2 separate regions of the Homo sapiens genome follow, and region 2 is linked to region 1. Evidence: fine-mapped expression QTL. Tissue or cell type: whole blood. Region 1 holds a variant in brackets; the other region holds the start of a gene. All regions are shown on one strand. Distances are from middle to middle.

Region 1 (4,261 bases):
TTTAAAAAAATTAATTTTTCTAGAGACAGGGTCTCAATATGTAGCCCAGGCTGAACTTGAGCTCCTGGCCTCAAGTGATCCTCCTGCCTCAGCCTCCTAAGTAGCTACAGGGTACATGCCACCACACCTGGTTACTTTATTTGTATTTTTTGAGATGAAGTCTCCCTCTGTTGCCCAGGCTGGAGTGCACTGGTGCGATTTTGACTCACTGCAACCTCTGCTGCCCAGGTTCAAACGATTCTCTGGCCTCAGCCCCCCAAGTAGCTGGAATTACAGGCATGTGCCACCATACCCAGCTAATTTTTAGTAGAGACGGGGTTTCACCATGTTGGCCAGGCTGGTCTCAAACTCCTTACTTCAAGTGATCTGCCCACCTCGGCCTCCCAAAGTGCTGGGATTACAAGCGTGATCCACTGTGCCCGGGCTTTTTTTTTTTTTTTTTTTTTGTAGAGACAGGGTCTCGCTTTTTTGCCCGGGCTGGTGGTGAACTCCTGGGCCAAGTGATCCTCCTGCTTCAGCCTCCCAAAGTGCTGGGATTATAGGCATGAACCACTGTTCCTAGCCAGCAGGGTCATTTTTCATTCCGTCTTGTACTTGCCTCAGTACTTACCACTGGCTCTGAGAACTGCAGAGGGGCTGCTCTGCTTCTACTTCCGGTTCATTCTTATCAGGACCATTTGCTGTGGATTTACAGAGTTGACTCTTTTGGTGTTGTCGGATCATTTCTGCCAAGGTCTCTTGGACTTCAGCAACAGTTCTCTGTGAGTTTTGGAGACTGGCATGCTTTTCTGAAAAGAGCTCCTTAAAAGTACTCAGCATTCGCTCACCTTCTTCTGTGAGTCTCAAGTCTAGTTCTGAAGGCCTGTTTGGCTCTGGCTGAGAAGTTTCAGGGTCCGTTTCTTCAGTGCTGGCAGTGTCTAACTGCTGGCTTGGCTCAACAGAGAGTGTTCTGTGACCAGCCCTTACCCAGACACTGGAATTTGGGCAAGGTCTGGAGAGAGACCACCAGAATTCATACAGACGCCCATAAAGAAAAAAGGCCTCCAAACTTTTGAAAGCTGGTGTGGCAGGGGATTGATGGTCCCCCAACTTGTCTCTTAGGTGGTCACAGCCTAGGAAAAGAGGAAAAAGATACTGGGTCATGCATTTCTCTAGTTGCCAGAAATGTGGCTTCCTGCCCTTATGTTCTATTTCTTATCAACCAAGAAGCAGACCCCAGGAAAAAGGACAACAGTGTGATCCACCGGGCCACATGCCTTTCCACCAAGAGCCAACTGGAGGCTAAACATTTCCTGGCTTGCGACAGTGTTCTCATTACTACATCCTAGGAGTCATTCAAAGCATGATAGAGTATTCCATTTGTACTACTGAAGGCTCTGGGGCCACGACAACAGATCACACTGTCTCTCTGAAAAATCACAATGATTTAGTTCAGTGACTGACTATGCAGCCCAAGGAATGTCTATCTTTTTTGCTGTTCTTTTCTGTTCTTACTAACATGTAACTACATTCCTATTTCTCTCTCCCTTAAACTTTGTGGAAAGTGGACAGGAGGCTGTAAGAGGGTAGGGCCAGGTAAAGGAAACAGTATAGTTGTTCTTAAAAGCTTCGGTAAGAGAATCCAAACTTTCTACTAAAATGACACAGCTGGCCAATCTCCATCTTTTAAGAATCTAGGTACTCCCAGTGCCACACCACTAATGGTGGTGATGTTGTCCATTAAAGGGTGTGCCTCAGGCAGCAGGAAGTCACTTACCGTCAGGGAGAAAGGCTGAGTACACTTCCTGCATGATGGTGAAGCTCCCTGAGTCATAGCTCCGGACCACCGCCCGAAGGAGCGCCTGCACAGCCTCGTCCCAGGAGGCCATCTGTTGGCTCAGCACTGCCAGGGTCAAGTCATGGCAAATGTGAAGCAGGAGCTGGAGAGAGAAGCCAGAGTCTGAGTTAAACATCCTCCCACGGTAGGCGCAGAGGATGCCACCAAACTGTTCCTGTGAACCGCATTTGGAAACAAGTACACACAATTCACACTTTGAAAGTTCCTCTTGTCTCCGCCACCCATTTTTGCTTCCCACATCGGAAACTCTCATGTCTAGTTGCACAGCAGCACACACACGTCCCGGTGTTAAAGTCTGTTCACACTGAGAAAACACCTTTACATTTGCATTTAATTAAAACAAAAAGTGGGCCAGGCGCGGTGGCTCATGCCTGTAATCCCAGCACTTTGGGAGGCCAAGGTGGGCAGATCACAAGGTCAGGAGTTCAAGACCAGCCTGGCCAACATGGTGAAACCCCGCCTCTACTAAAAACACAAAAATTAGCCAGGCATGATGGCGCGTGCCTGTAGTCCCAGCTACTCGGGAGGCTGAGACAGAAGAATTGCTTGAACCCGGAAGGTGGAGGTTGTGGTGAGCTGAGATTGCGCCACTGCACTCCAGTCTGAGCATGAGAGTGAGACTCCCTCTCAAAACAAACAAACAAACAACAAAAACAAAAAGTGAGTTTCTGGAACTAAAAGCTGTAATTAAAAACAAAATAAAGGCTGGGTGCAGTTGCTCACACCTATAACCCCATCACTTTGGGAGGCTGAGGCGGGCGGATCACCCGAGGTGAAAGCCCGTCTC[T/TAA]AAAAAAAAAAAAAAAAAAAAAAAAATTAGCCGGGCTTGGTGGTGCACGCCTGTAATCCCAGCTACTTGGGAGGCTGAGGCGGAAGAATTGCTTGAACCCGAGAGGCGGAGGTTGCAGTAAGCCACTACACCCGAGCCTGGGTGACAGAGTGAGACGCTGTCTCAAAAAAAAAAAATCAAAACCCACCAAAAACAAAACAAAACAAAGCTTGGAGTACAACTAAGAAAAATGTGCTCAATTTTAAGTATGTAGTTTGAGAAACATATATAGTTACAACACTACCAGCAAAATCAAGACAGAACATTTTCATCAACTGAAGATATGCCCTCCGGCTCCTCTGCAGGCGATCTCCTGGCCCCACCCCACTGGCAACCACTGAACTGGTTGTCACTTTAATTTTTTCTTTTCTAGAATTCATATAAATGGAACCACAGAGTATATAGTCTTTTGTGTCTTTAAAGCTTTTGAGATTCACCGATATTCTTCTTCTTCTTCTTTGTTTTTTTGAGATGGAGTCTTGCTCTGTCGCCCAGGCTGGAGTGCAGTGGCACGATCTCGGCTCACTGTAAGCTTGGCCTCCTGGGTTCACACCATTCTCTTGCCTCAGCCTCCAGAGTGGCTGGGACTACAGGAGCCCGCCACCACGCGCGGCTAACACCGATATTATTTGTGTGGCAGTAATTTGTTCCTTTTTACTTTCTTTTTTTGAGACAGGGTCTCATTCTCTTACCCAGGCTGTAGTGCAGTGGTTCCATCTTGGCTCACTGCAGCCTCCGTCTCCCAGATTTGAATGATTCTCCTGCCTTAGCCACCCTAGTACCTGGGATTACAGGCTTGTGCTACCACACCCGGCTAATTTTTGTATTTTTACTAGAGACAGGTTTTTGCCATGTTGCCCAGGCTGGTCTCAAACTCCTGAGCTCAAGCGATCCACCCGCGTTGGCCTCCCAAAGTGCTGGGATTACAGGTGTGAGCCACCAAGACTGGCCCTTTTTATTGTTAAACAGTATAGTATTTCACTGCATAGACACAACACAGTTTGCATATCCATTCATCAGTTGATGGACATTTGGGTTGTTTCTAGTTTTTGGCTACTGTGCACTAAGCTGCTGTAAACATTTGTGTACAAGTCTTTGTGTGGCCATCTGATTTCATTGTTTTAGTGGAATATCTAGGTAGCAGAACTGCTGAGACATGGGGCATGTGCATGTTTAACTTTATAAGAAACTGCCTGGCCAGGCGTGATGGCTCACACTTGTAATCACAGCACTTTGGGAGGCCGAGGCAGGTGGATCACATGAGGTCAGAAGTTCAAGACCAGCCTGGCCAACATGGTGAAACCCTGTCTCTACTAAAAATCTGAAAAATAGGCTGGCTGCAGTGGCTCATGCCTATAATCCCAGCACTTTGGGAGGCCGAAGTGGGCAAATCACGAGGTCAGGAGTTCGAGACCAGCCTGGCCAACATGGTGAAACCCCTGTCTCTACTAAAAATACAAAAAATTAGCCGGGCATGGTGGCAGGTGCCTGTAATCCCAGCTACCCGGGAGGCTGAGGCAAGAGAATTGCTTGAACCTGGGAGGCGGAGATTGCAGTGAGCCAAGATCATGCCACTGTACTCCAGCCCGGGTGACAGA
Region 2 (4,121 bases), 48 kb after region 1:
GTGCGGTGGCTCACGCCTGTAATCCCAGCACTTTGGGAGGCCGAGGCGGGAGGATCACGAGGTCAGGAGTTAAAAGACCGGCCTGGTCAGCATAGTGAAACCTCGTCTCTATTAAAAAACAAAAATAAAATAAAATAATAAAATAAGCCGGGTGTGGTGGCAGGCGCCTGTAATCCCAGCTGCTCGGGAGGCTGAGGCAGGAGAATCGCTTGAACCCGGGAGGCGGAAGTTGCTGTGAGCGGAGATCACGCCACTGCACTCTAGCCTGGCCACACAGCGAGACTCCATCTCAAAAAAAAAAAAAAAGTAAAATGCAACAATCCCTAGACAACAAATACTAGGGAGGCTGAGGCAGGAGAATCGCTTGAACCTGGGAGGCGGAAGTTGCAGTGAGCAGAGATTGCGCCACTGCACTCCAGCCTGGGCGACATTGCGAGACTCCATCTCAAATAAAAACAAAACAAAACAAAAAAAGATATGCACAAGAGGCCACTTAACAAAAATATTGTTGTACCTGAGTGAGTTAGAGAAAACGCCACACTTTGAGACGAATTAAGAGTCCATTTGTTTAGCCGGTGGCCAAGAGATGGCTAACGCTCAAAGTTCTCTCAGCCGGAAGAAGAGGCTAGATTTTCTTTTATACTTTGGTTTAGAAAGGGGAGGGGAGTCTAGTTAAAACAATTTTACAGAAATAAAGTAGGCAAAAAGTTAAAAGGATAAATGGTTACAGGAAAGTAAACAGTTCCAGGTGCAGGGGCTTTAAGACTATTTATTACAAGGTGATAGACTGGGGGCTTTGGGTGCTATCAATCAGACGAATTCCTGGGAATTGCGGATATTGCTCGCCACAGTATCTTATCAGTTAATTGCATCTTGGATGTGCTGGGAGTCAGCTTGCACAAGTTAAGTTCTTGAGGAAGGGGCTGCCAGTGAAAGAGCCAAGATGGAGTCTGTCTGGCTCTCTTAGCTAAGCAAGAGTCAATTCAAGTGGAAACAAGGCTAGGTGATCAGAGGAAAAAGGGAGAGTCTAAAAACAGGGTTAGTAAAAACAAGGTTGGGCATTACAATATGGAGTCCGGGAGACAGGCTGGTGTGAGCTGTGATCGAGCCACTGCACTCAAGCCTGGGCAATAGAGTGAGACCCTGTCTCAAAAAAACAAAACAAACAAAAATATGAAAGTACGAATCTGGAATTAAAAAGGGAAAGAACAGTTTCTGCAACTGGGTGGAAATTCTGGCTCTGGGTTCTGGGTACTCAAAGATGAAGGAGAAGCAAATGGAGTGACTCTTGATTTGCTTGATTGAGGGCCAGCTGTGTGAAGGAAGCTGTATGTGGTAAATGGTGTGGAAGAAAGTTTCCTTTCAACTCAAAAATGCTAAAATGCTCAGATTCTGCACTACTCGTGTGTTGCTTGTTTGCATTGGGTATCTGACATTCCTGCATAGGTAGCAAACCGCAATCTGAACTACCTGTTATTCTAATACAGAGGGGTCAAATACATATATTTGAAGGCGTCTAGGGGCACAAATTTGGAGGCACCTAGTCGTAGATTGATCACTGGTTTGCCAGTTGTTAGTTGAGAGACTTTAACATATCCTAAATATGTTTCCTCATTTGAAGAAGGAAAATGATAATCCATGCCTTGTTGGATTGCTGTGAGGAATAAATGAGATTTAGTGAAATACCTGCCTGACATAAGGCAGTAAATGCCAGATGAATATAAACTCATTCTTGAAGGTCAACCAGATTAGTAGGGATTAGGACAGCATACATCATATTTGAACTATTTGCTCTTTAAAAGAGATTTTAGGCTAGGTTTCGTGGCTCATACCTCTAATCCTAGCACTTTGGGAGGCCGAGGAGGGCAGATTGCTTGAGCCCAGGAATTCGAGATCAGCCTGGGCAATTTGGGGAAACTCCTTATCTATAAAAAATACAAAAATTAGCCGGGCGTGGTGATGTGCGCCTGTAGTCACAGCTACTTGGGAGGCTGAGGTAAGAGGGTGGCTTGAGCCCGGGGTCGAGGCTGCAGTGAGACTAGGTCATTGCTACCACACTCCAGCCTAAGCGAGAGAGAGACCCTGTTTCAATAAAATGAAATAAAATAGCTTTCACACTATTTCAACTGATCTTTACAACAAGCTTGTGCCCTAAGGTTAGTCATTTCTGATAAGAAAACTGAGGACCACCGGATTAGGTGGCTTGTTCACGGATTCTGTTCCCCTACTCCTTTCTAGTTTGTGAGTTGGGACTTTAGTTTTTCTGAATCCAGGTGAATTTTCGGAAGCCCACGTGCTTTCGGCCTTTATTAATTAATTCATTCCCAAGCCAGGTTCGCCTGACCACACCTCGAGCGCCGGCCCAGTGCTTGCGATCTTCGTGACGGCACCTGGGGTGTAAGTACTGCTTGTGGGAGAGCCCCACAGGAAATCCAGAGTATTGCGCATGCGTGCTGTCCAGAAGGCGCTTGAACTCGGCGGCTTCCGTAGCGGGAGGGCGAAAGATGGCGGCGGCAGTACTGGGACAGTTGGGTAAGGATTTCTTAGTGGTTAAGCGACAGAAGGGAGTCGAGATGGAATCTGAGTTGACGGCTTGTGTTGATGTTGCAGGTGCGTTATGGATACATAACCTGAGGAGCCGGGGGAAGCTGGCCTTGGGGTGAGTCTCTCGCTTCGGAGTTTCGGAAGGGCCCAAGGCATCTTTAGTATTCTGCCAGTTGGTAACTGAGCGCCTCCGTGCCTAACTGTGTTTTAGGCTCTGGGGTTACTGAGGCGAATGAGACAGCCCGAGTCTCTGCTTTGTCACTCTATTTTTTCTCCACCTTATTGCATAAACTGTACAGGGATCAGGATTACCCATAACCCAAGGGCGATTGTAAATGCGATTTCCGAACGTCTACTGTGATCTTTCTGGACAAGGTTAGACTATTCCATCTCCATATGGAAGCGTCCAACTTTTCAAGTTACCTCTCTGATTACTTGCTTACATGGGCAGGGACCGTGTTGTGGACAACTCTGCTTTACGTCGTACCTGACATTGTGTTTAGCGGTTTATATGCTTTAACTCACTCTCATAACATTCTACGAGTAGGTTCTGCTATACCCGTTTTTCAGACAAGGAAATTGAAGTCCCCAAACGTAAAATAACTTGCCTAAGGCCACTCAGTTGTAGGAAATTTTGAAGCTTTATACCAGAGCATTCTGTAGCCTTAGGACAAAAGCATTCATTAAAGGTTAGGGTAAGTAGTCGCTGTATTTCTCCCCAAAATAAAAAATCGGTATTTGAAAATTGATAATCTGATTGTAAATTTTCTGGTCTGTCCATTTGTTAGCATTGATTTTGGTTTAGTTCATAGGCTTTGCAGACAGATGAGTTGTATATGAATCCATTTTTTAACTGTGATCTTGGAAAAGTTACTTATTCTTAATAAGCTTCAGTTATCACTTTTATGATATGAGCGTTATGTTAGTACCTATCTCTTAGGATTTAAAAAATTTTTTAATTTTTATTTATTTATTTTTTTAGATGAAGTGTTGCTATGTTGCCCATGCTGGTCTCAAACTTAAGGGCTGAAACAATTCTCTTGCCTCAGCCTCCTGAAGTACTGGGATTACAGGCACATGCCATCTATGTAGCTCTAGTAGATTTTAAAAAGGAAATTCAAACAAGATAATGCATATGAAGTATTTAGTATGTTTATGGCATGTGATAATCCCACTCTGAATTCTAGTTGCCATTAATGTTTTTATTATTATAAATTATTACTGAGTTCCCAATTATATTTAACCCTTTTCTAAGTTTTTGGGTCCGAGGGGGATAAAGAGGTGGGCTAAAGAAGAAAATAGGAAGTAGTAGCTCTTAGGATTTGTCTGTACTCTTCTTAGATAATCTTCTATCACTCTTCCCCCAACCATGCTGATTTACTTACTTTTTCTGAATATACTTTGCACTTACTTGCTTCTTGGCTTTTCCTACTATGCCCTCACATCTTGTCTATAACAGCAGTCCTACCCATTATTCAAACCTCTGTTCAGATGTTTTCCCTTCAGGAAGTTTTCACTGGTTTCTCTAAAACGGAAAGAAATTAGTTTTTCCTTCCTTTTAGCATGTGTGCCTTCTA

Evidence for each region. PIP is the estimated chance that this variant, and not a neighbour inherited with it, causes the effect.
Region 2: MRPL22 starts here. The variant in region 1 is fine-mapped to the expression of MRPL22 in whole blood (INTERVAL, PIP above 0.99).

The regions. Positions count from the first base shown.
Region 1 is chr5:154,890,631-154,894,891 of GRCh38, forward strand. GEMIN5 (gem nuclear organelle associated protein 5) reads right to left here. Exons shown (of 28, transcript NM_015465.5): 25 at 1,757-1,919; 26 at 611-1,112. Among named protein-coding and RNA genes, the nearest start is that of CNOT8, 34 kb to the left of the region's middle. The variant T/TAA (reference allele first, on the strand shown) is at 2,625.
Region 2 is chr5:154,938,607-154,942,727 of GRCh38, forward strand. MRPL22 (mitochondrial ribosomal protein L22) reads left to right here and starts at 2,467. Exons shown (of 7, transcript NM_014180.4): 1 at 2,467-2,532; 2 at 2,611-2,659. The coding sequence starts at 2,505. RefSeq lists an enhancer at 2,407-2,566.